Linked DNA regions of Homo sapiens: region 1 is linked to region 2. A link means that fine-mapping ties the variant in region 2 to the expression of a gene that starts in the linked region. Tissue or cell type: lung. Region 2 holds a variant in brackets; the other region holds the start of a gene. All regions are shown on one strand. Distances are from middle to middle. Region 1 holds the start of NMUR2 (neuromedin U receptor 2). Region 2 has its middle 92 kb from the start of NMUR2.

Region 1 (5,395 bases), 92 kb after region 2:
TCTGAGGAAAAGAAGTCATTATTCGAAAAAAATACTTGCACATGCCTGTTTATAGCAGCACAATTCGCAACAGTAAAATTGTGGAACCAACCTAAATGCCCATCAATCAGTGAGTGGATAAAGAAACTCTGATATATATTGATATATATGGATATATCATATATGGATATCCTATATATCCATATATATGGATATATCATATATAAATACTATATAATATATATTATATATAATATTATATATAATATATCTTATATATATTATATATAATATATATAATATACAATATAATATAATATATAATATAATATAATATAAATATAATATATAAATATATATCCATATATGGATATATAATATATAAATATATTTCCATACATATATATGAATACTACACAGCCATAAAAAGGAATGAATTAACAGCATTTGCAATGACCTGGGTGAGATTAAAGACTATTATTCTAAGTGGAGTAACTCAGGAATGGACAACCAAACATCATATGTTCTCACTGATATGTGGGAGCTAAGGTGTGAAGATGCAAACGCATAAGAATGATACAATGGACTTTGGGGACTTTAGGGGAAGAGAGGGAGGCAGGTGAGGGATAAAAGACAACAAATATGGTGCAGTGTATACTGCTTGGGTGATGGGTGCACCAGGTTCTCACAAATCTCTACTAAAGAACTTACTTGTGTAACCAAATACCACCTGTACCCCAGTAACTTATGGAAAAATATTTTTGTTAAAGAAAGAAATATTTTCCATCTTCCTCAGCGCTAAGTTTATAGTCTGCCACTGTGCACCCTTATAACGATCCTTACATCTAAATGAGATATTCTCATTAAACTTTTCCTATTTCATTAGAAAAATACGTTAAAGTTTGTAAATAGTGATTTTAACATCAAAACTTGCCTTTAACTAGAGGGCCCTAATTCTGGCTCTGCAATACCTATTACATGTCTGTAATTATTATTAATGTTATTGATCAATTTTTCCTACTTTTCCATCTTCTGTGCACATGCTAAGACAGCACTTCCTGACCCTGCTGTAGTCGAATGGGTACATATGATTAACCTTGGTCAATGAGCTGTGAGAAAAACTGGCAATGAGTTACTTACTTTTGGGCTAGAGCCTATAATTACCTACTTAAGACCATCCAGAGCTCTCTTTTCCTCTATCACAATGATAATCAAAATTCCAGAGAGTGACCACTGCATCAGCCTAGGTTTATGAGTGAGCATAGCATGAGACAGACCCTCAATACATTTGAAGTACAAGAGAAATAAATCTGTATTGTTTAAAACCACCAAGATATGTCAATCATTTGTTACAGCAGCGTAAACTATCTTAACTTGAGAGATGACTTATTCTTGGACAAGTCACTTTCCCTCTCTAATTTTTAACGTCATAATCTGATTTAACAAATAAAGGGAAAAAATTAACATTTAGTGAGCATCTCTTAAGTATAAGTTGCTTCGTTATATATAATTTAATTTAGTCTTCTCAATGACCATAAAAGGTATTATCTCCTGCAAAAATATTCCTAAATCCAAAGAAATCTCTCAACTCCACTGCTCATAGAATCCAAGCCACTACTATGTCTTACTAGCCTCTTACCTACCTTCTGTTAAAATTTCTCCCTCGTTAATTCTCCAGTGCAAAATCTTTTAAAGACTTCTCCCTGCCATTTGAATCAGAGCTAAACTCTCTTCCATGGCCTATAAGAGTTTACATGAACCTGTACCTGCCAGCCACTTCAATCTAAGCATTCATACTTTGCTGACCACTTATTAAATTCCAGTTATTCTGGTCTTCCTGATATTTTTAAAACCTATCCAGCTTGTTTCTGCCTCAGGACCTTTGCACTTGCTATTACTTTTGCTGAGTAATACACTTCCCTTAGCTCTTTCATGACTGACTTCATCATTCAGACCTCAGCTAAAGTGACATCTCCTGAGATAAGTTTTCTTTCACCATCCTTGATAAATAATTATTTATCAATTACTATCTGAAATTATATTATTAATTTATTCATTTGCTTGTGTGTTTTCAGAATTCCCTACTGCAAGAAAAGCTCCACTAGGGCAGAGACCTTGTCTTGCTTGTACACTAGTGTTTCTACAAAGCTTAGAACATTCCCTGGCAAATAGTGAATCCTCAAGAAGTTATTGTGGAACGCAATCGAATTAATGATGCAGATAAGGAAATAAGCCTCTAAGAGTTTGGGTAACTGTGCCAACTTTCCTAAATTTCTATGAGTGTTCCTAATTCTGAAGTCCATTTGCCTTTTGCTTACAGCAAAGCTCTGCTGAGACTGAAGAGTCAGTTAGCAGTCAGGGCTAGGCACTGTGCATGCGCCCTTTCAGGCTTCGGATTCTATCGTTGATGCAGTTAAAACCAAAAAGTCACATTAATCATGTTATCACATTAATCCCCAGAGAACCCTGAATTTCCAGTGGAACAAGATAACTTGAGAAATCTATTGATCTCCTATTTTCATCATGCTGTACGGCTGACAAGGGTTAGTGGAGATTGGTATTCTTTTGCCCATGGCCCTGCAACTTTAATTTCTATGTCTACCCAGATTCCCACAACTTTGCAACCTGCATTGCTCAAAGTGCCCATCCATGAAGTTCGAGTGGCTTCTTTTGTGTCAGCTCTGCCTTCCCAGCTCCTTCCCATTCAGGGAGAGGTCTCTGCCTCCTCCCCTGCTTCCTGACTCGAAGCCAGCACCCCTCTCCTCCAGTGCAGCCTAACACACTCTCATTGGCCCTCAGCCTGTCAAGGGGAGGGGCTTGTGTCTCCGGGGCTCTTCAAAAGGGATCGGCGGTCCAGGCAGCCTAACCTGGAGGGTGAAACACTCACTCTCTCCCAGCCTTCCTTACGAAGCCTGTGACTTTCGTGACTGCTTTCTCTTTTTTGTTTTCCTTTTTTCTTTTTTTTTTTTTTTTCCTGGCTCAGCTTGAAACAGAGCCTCGTACCAGGGGAGGCTCAGGCCTTGGATTTTAATGTCAGGGATGGAAAAACTTCAGAATGCTTCCTGGATCTACCAGCAGAAACTAGAAGATCCATTCCAGAAACACCTGAACAGCACCGAGGAGTATCTGGCCTTCCTCTGCGGACCTCGGCGCAGCCACTTCTTCCTCCCCGTGTCTGTGGTGTATGTGCCAATTTTTGTGGTGGGGGTCATTGGCAATGTCCTGGTGTGCCTGGTGATTCTGCAGCACCAGGCTATGAAGACGCCCACCAACTACTACCTCTTCAGCCTGGCGGTCTCTGACCTCCTGGTCCTGCTCCTTGGAATGCCCCTGGAGGTCTATGAGATGTGGCGCAACTACCCTTTCTTGTTCGGGCCCGTGGGCTGCTACTTCAAGACGGCCCTCTTTGAGACCGTGTGCTTCGCCTCCATCCTCAGCATCACCACCGTCAGCGTGGAGCGCTACGTGGCCATCCTACACCCGTTCCGCGCCAAACTGCAGAGCACCCGGCGCCGGGCCCTCAGGATCCTCGGCATCGTCTGGGGCTTCTCCGTGCTCTTCTCCCTGCCCAACACCAGCATCCATGGCATCAAGTTCCACTACTTCCCCAATGGGTCCCTGGTCCCAGGTTCGGCCACCTGTACGGTCATCAAGCCCATGTGGATCTACAATTTCATCATCCAGGTCACCTCCTTCCTATTCTACCTCCTCCCCATGACTGTCATCAGTGTCCTCTACTACCTCATGGCACTCAGAGTGAGTATCTAGGCTGGGGTGGCCTGAGGCAGCATCCCTTCTTTTTTCACAGGCTCAAAGTTCAGAGAAAAACTTAGAATTGGGGAAATTCAGAAATGGAAGGGAACAGAGGGAAAATAGAATGAGCTCAGATGGGAAATTGAGACTTAAAAGGACTTGCCTCAAATGAGATGAATGGTAACCACAACTATTTATCATTTCCTTTAGCTCGTCTTCTATTTTTCTTCCCTCTATTCTTGGGGTTCTCGTATCTAAATGTTCCTAAGAATCATGCAGAAAACTTACTTTGGGAGCAATATGCATACCTCACCCCCAGGAAAATGGGATTCAGAAGGTCTGAGGTGGAGCCTCATTTTAAATAAGCACATCAGGTGATCTGGGGTGAGGTGGCCACACTTTGAGAGACTTCTCCACATCCTGTTGTCACTTTCCAGCCCCTGGCCACTGCCTGCATTGAGATTTTCCTGTACACCAACTTGGTCTGAGTATAACACAAACTATCCCTGCCTATTTTGTAGTCCAAGATAGGTATTCAGTTTTAAAATCAGACATTTACTGTGGTTGCTCCGACCCTTTCATTAAAATGAGGTTGAAACAAAACAAAATAAAACTATATATATTATATGTATAGTTACATATATAATATATAGTCATATATATAATATATAGTTATATATAATATATAATCATATATATTAATGACATGACTGAGATAACTTGAGCTTCTTTTGAGCAGGTGCAGATTGAGAGATAAGGAAGTAAACAGCACATGAGATAGAGTGAAAAAATGTGAATAAGAGCTTATCTGAAATTAAGAAAAAGATATCACTTATTTTGCAACATATATAATTAGAGGTTCTTTTCCTATGTTTATGGTGGTAAACTGATTTCTTTTTCAGAAGGGGGGTGTCTAAATTAGCTGAGAGAAACTATTTTTAATAAGGGTAGGAATTAGTCTATATAATTCCTCTCTGGTATATTCTGCACCCAAATTCATGAAGAGAAAAGTTCTTCACAATGACAATTTTACACCCACTTAAGGGAGGTATTATAGCTTGTGTAGTAAACAGTTACGAGACCATTTAGACTCCCAGATCTACAGCTGACATATAATATGCCTTTAGGCAAGCCACATCATTCTCCTGGAATTAGTTTTCCCGTGTATAAAATGAAAAGGTCACATCAGATCCTATCTATGTCCCCTGTAGCTCTAACAGTCTATTATTCCTTTAAAAAAAGAAAAAAAAACACCTGTGAGCTGAAGTAATGTGAGTTTTAAATGACAGGACAAACAGATATCACATTCACATCATTTGCTTTGAGATGGCTCTGACATCACACTTTATGTGACAACTAATATACTCCTATTTCAGTCCATCTCTGAGAAGCCGATTGTCAGAAGCGAGTGCCCAATGGTAGTCCTTTTGAATACCTATTGTCCCTAAGGTGAATAGCGAGGTCTAAGTAGGAAGAACAAATTCTAAGTGTCACGGACATCTGGGCACAAGAGTAAATCTAATTAGGCAGAGAGCTGTGCCAGTCCCCTCCTGGAGGGCTAGCACCTGTATTCCCAGAGACATGTCCCACCCCGCACTAGCTCACAGCCATGTCTTAAGAACGTCCTGCACATCTCACTGCGGGGAAAAGACTTCTATACAAC
Region 2 (5,395 bases):
AGCCTGCACACTGGGAGAACGCAGTGGAGCCATGGAAATTCGCGCCCTTTGCAGGCGATAGGAGCCTGGCCTCTCCTGTTCCAGGGTGGTAACCTGGAATTCAAACTGTGAGGCAGGAAGCCTACTAGCAGGACTTGCTTTGCTGAGAGTCCCTGTTTTCTTTTATACCTTTTCATCCAATAAACGCTGCCCTTCTCACCCTTCCAAGTGTCTGCAAGCCTAATCTTTCATGGCTGTGTGACAAGAACCCAGCCTTTAGCTGAACTAAGGAGAAAGTCCTACAACAATATTTGGTCCAAACTTTGGAGTATGCAAGGGGTTCTGAAAGACAAAAGGTGTCTGATACAGAGGAAATACTAAGACCTGGGAGTTGAGAGGCAAGTTTGAGTCTAATGGCTGACACTGACTCCCGGATCTTGAACAAGTTTCTACCTCTTTAGAATTGTTATCCAAGCCTGAAATACAATAGGGTTGGGAAAGATCATGTAGGGACGCTTCCAGGTTCAGATCCTATTGTTTAAATTCAAAGGAGTAGGATAACCCACTCTTGAAAGCCTGGATCACACCTTCGAGTTCAAAAGCTACTGAAGCCCCAGGGTATAAGATCTAGGACAATATCCTTGTGAACCTAGAATGTACAACATTGCCATCTGACAGAAATAAGTTTTGTGAACAGATAGAAATAATCTCTCTTCTCATTAGAGCAACAGAGCCAAAAATACGGATATCCAGGCTTTTAAATTTCCTAAGAATTATATCCTGGTGTGTAGGCAGGGGTTGTTCATATAGAACCAAGAAATGCCAGTTCAGAGATGACCTCTCTTAGGTACTATGAATGATGGCTAAGACTATGGTGTGGCATCTGGAGTGAGTCAAACCTGTGTTTAAATCCAAGTCCTGCTACACGCATTTTAGGTAACCCTAAAGAAGTAATATTTCAGGCCTCAACTTTCTTCCCTGAAGAATGGCCATCTTATTTTTGTTTGTCTTTAAGTGAATTAAATAAGGTCATGAATGTAAAACTCTTAGTACTTTGCCTGGCAATTTGCCCACTGGATTCTTATCTATTTGAGGGTAGGAACTACGATAGTATTCCAAGAATGTCGCCCTTACATGATACATAGTAAGTGCTCAAGAAACTTTGAAATATCTGACACCACATGCCCCAAAGGTCTACTGAGTTGCCCTGAACAATGAAAATTTCTCTCTTCTTTAATTACCTGATACCTGTTTGGTCCAGTAGATCAAGAAGAGAGACAGTATTACTGTTCTTAGATCCATTTTTCCTCTACATCTGCCTTTATGTCATTTACCATATGTACTATATATGCATGGCACTTGGGCCCCACTATATGGTGCAAATTGATATCACTATGCTTTGTCATATTCAAAGCTTCCTGCCTTATGATCCTGTAATTTTTAGATTTTGATTTTTGAGTGTTATGTATATTCTTCATTTGTTTAGACACTGATGGAATTTAGCACAAGTAGTGTCAATCAGATACGGTAGTAAAACTTATAAGTAACTTGAAGTCTCATTAGAATTATAACATAGGCTCTCACTGCACTACCATCCCAAATTGAGTGCTAAGGAAGCTCTAAGTTTATAGATACATTTTCTACCCAGTCAATCATCATTTATGAGAATTGTGCTATTTCACAGAGCTGGAATTTTACATAAGCCAATTGAGACACACTTCTATCAAGACAATTATGACTATAATACCAAAAGACCACTTTTTCAATAATCAACATCATCATTATAATTAGTCAACAAAAAGGGACACTTGCAAACTAGTGAGCTTTTATAGCCAGGATGTTATTAAATATGAATCCCAAAAGGACAAGTGCATAGAAGAATGAACAATGTGTTCCATTAAAAACAGTAATTTGTTGACAAATTCTGCACATAATGATGTATAATTATGAAAACCAATTTGGCTTTGCTATTAGAAAAATCTTTTTTGCAAGTTTAGGATTCTTTTTCACATCTTTGCAAATATTGAAAAACAGTTTTCTTTTTCCAAATGGAAGTGTTTATATATAAATTACTTTTAATTTGTATAAAATTATACTTGCACTTTATATTAAGATCATGTCACTGGGTGAAAATATAGAAATCCTTTCTTATTATCTAGACCTGTCCTGCTCAGTATGGTAGCCATTAGTCACATATGGCTACTGGTTACTTCACAAGTGGCTACCAAAACTGAGGAATTAAGTTTTTATATTTTAACTGAGTCAATTTTAAGTTTTAAAACTGAAGCAATATAAAATATTTTTCAATTAAACATAACTACATTATTGTACATTTCTCTTTAACTATTAAAAATTTAGTGTCTGAATTGAGCTTTGCCAAAAGTGAAATGTATACACAAAATTTCAAAGATTAAATATTAAGAACAATGGAAAATATCTTCATGTTACGATGATTACTTGTTGAAACAGTAACATTTGGGTATGTTCAATTAAATAGAACGTATTTTTTTCTATGTATTTTCACTGTTTTTTAATGTGGCTACTAGTAAATTTCAAGTTACGTATGTGGTTCATATTGTATCTGGACTTAACAGCATTGATCTTTCCACTTAGAAAAATCTACTTTTCCATGATCTACTTCCTGTAATGGCAGTGAAGCTTTTATCAAATTTATTCATTCACAGACAAGATTTATAAACACTAGACAAAACAGAAAATACAACAAAAACAACTGTTTTTTTGAAGGCCTGAAGAAACATTGAAAGCAAGATGAAATTGAAAGTTGGCCTTTGAAGGAAGGGCACTGCCCTGGATAAGATTCAGGTGTAGTAAGCTTTGCACCTGTGGACATTACC[C/T]AATCTGCAGGAAAATGAATGGAAAGAATTCAGGAAGAAAGTCAAAGGCATAGGAATGGAAGTAAGGCCATAGAGTTTAGAGCTGCCAAAATAGCTAGAAAGTGAAGGGGAAAATTTAGAAAAGGAGGAAGCCCCTAAATCTACATCTGAATACCTGTCAAATCCTTGGCTAAACTGTAAATACAAATTCAGGGGACTCCAAGTTTCAGACTGTAAAACATTATCTGTGAGGCTGGAGGAACTGAGCAGAGATCTCAGATTTCATCCACTTCAAGAGAGACAATTGGTGTTTAGGTGGACTGCCTATCAGAAAAAAAACAAACATCCTTTAGAAGAAAACTGAATCACAGTCTCTACCATGTTTCCTTTAGAACATGTAGTATAGAATAAACTAGTAAACTCACAAAAGAACATGTAATCCACAGTCAAGAGAAAAAGCAGTCAATAGGTACTGAACTTGAAATGTTCAAGATGTTGGAATTTGCAAACAAGGACTCAAAAGGTATATTAAATCGATGTTTCAAAAAGTAAAGACAAATATGTCATAATGAATAAAGAAGGCAGGGAAACTAGGCAGAAAAATGAAAGCTAAACAAAAGAAAAAAATGAAAATTCCACAGCCAAAGAGTAAAATATCATGAAAATTTATTTGAAAAGGCGTTACAAGAGTACTGGAGACAAGGGGAAAAAAAGATCAGTGAATGTAGAGAGAGATTATCTTCTGTAGATTAGTATCTGAAGGTAGATTGGATCTTAGTAGAAATTATCCAATCTGGAGAACAGAGAGAATAAAGACTGAAAATAAATCAGAAGCTCAGAGGCTTATGGGATAATAATAAGTGTTCTAAAATGTATGCAACAGCTCCCAGGCTGTAGTACTTGAGAAAACATGAGAACATTCCTAAAAGAAATGTGACAAGCATCAACACCGTGAAGACACACAATACAAGGAGATCAAGGAATTTGGTATGCCTAGCTTCATTCTGACAGGAAGCAGAGCAGGCTATGGTGGGCAGACCAAGCAGATTTTCTGGAAAAGTCTCTGTAAAACTACAAAGAAGATTGTGATGAGGCTTAAATGTGTTGAGCCCAAATGCAGATCTAAGAGAATGCTGACTATTAAGAAATGCAAGAATTTTAAATTAGGGAGAGATGAGAGAAAAAGCCAAATGATCCAGTTCTAAACTTCATCTTTTGTTTTATTATGAAGACAATACAATATTGAGTTCACTTCAGAGAGTGTATGTGCATGTGTGTGGAATGGAAGTCTCAGAGTAAGGAAGAGATAAAAAAAGGTGGGAAAAAATTGAAAAAGAAAAAAAGCAGCCAAATAGTCCCCAAACTTGGGGGAAGAAAAACAAACAAGCAGACCCAATGAGCTGAGAAAATCCCAGTCAGAATAATCACAAAGAAAATCATACCTAGGGATATCATAGTCTAACTTCTGAAAACCAAAGATAAACTGACTATTGTTAAAGCAGCCAGTGAAAAAAGATAAAGGACATACTACCAGCAATATGAATGATGGCTAATTTCTTATCAAAAACAAAGGAGGCTAGAAGACAAAAGAAACCTGTGTCCAATGAAAATAAGCTTCAAGATAAGGGTAAAATGAAGATATTTTCAGAGAAGTAGAAACTGCATGAATTTATTGCCAGCAGATTTCAAGAACTACTATAGAACATTATTCAAATTCAAGAACTACTATAGAACATTATTCAAATTAAGGAAAATGATAACAGATTGAAACTCAGGACTCCAGAAACTAGTATAGAATACCAAAAGTGATATGCATGGGTAAATAATAAGAGTCTCTGTTTTTCCTTATTTAAAAGACACAACTACTTTAAAAATTGTAATAGTTTAACACTATAAGTAGAGCTGTAAATAATAGGTATAATATAAATATCAATAGCTTCAAGGACGGATAGTTAAATGGAACTATGATGTTGCACATTTCTAGTATTTTACATTAATTGGTAAAGTACTAACCCTAAGTAGACCTAATAGGTTAAAATGCATATTATAATCTCTAGGGTAACCACCAAAAATATAAAGATGTATAGTTAAAAAGCCAATAAAATTGTCCACTAAAAAATATTTGATCAACTTAAAGAAAGAAAGAAAAAAGACACAGGGAGACCTTAAACAAATTCATGAATGCTCAAGTATCTCATAAAATGGTATAGTATTTGCATATAATCTACAGACATCCTCCCGTACATAATCACACATGGCTTAACAACAGGGATATGTTCTGAGAAATGCATACTTAGGTGATTTCATCATTGTGTGAACATCATAGTGTGTACTTACACAAACCTAGATAGTTTCACCTCCTGCACACTTAGTCTACATGGTATAGCCTATTTCTCCTAGGCTATAAACTGTACAGCATGTTACTGTATGAAATACTGTGGGCAAATGTACCACAATAAGTATTTGTGTATCTTAACATATCTAAACAAAGATATAGTACAAATATGGTATTATAATCTTAAGAGAACACCATTGTATATATATGGTCAGCTGTTGACTGAAATGTCATTTTGCAGTAAATG

Evidence for each region. PIP is the estimated chance that this variant, and not a neighbour inherited with it, causes the effect.
Region 1: it holds the start of NMUR2, and the variant in region 2 is the best candidate, but not a certain one, in a credible set for the expression of NMUR2 in lung (TOPMed, PIP 0.55).

Annotation. Positions count from the first base shown.
Region 1 is chr5:152,402,728-152,408,122 of GRCh38, reverse strand. NMUR2 (neuromedin U receptor 2) reads left to right here and starts at 2,844. Exons shown (of 4, transcript NM_020167.5): 1 at 2,844-3,735. The coding sequence starts at 3,010.
Region 2 is chr5:152,494,341-152,499,735 of GRCh38, reverse strand. It overlaps the pseudogene RPL36AP20. Among named protein-coding and RNA genes, the nearest start is that of NMUR2, 92 kb to the right of the region's middle. The variant C/T (reference allele first, on the strand shown) is at 2,835.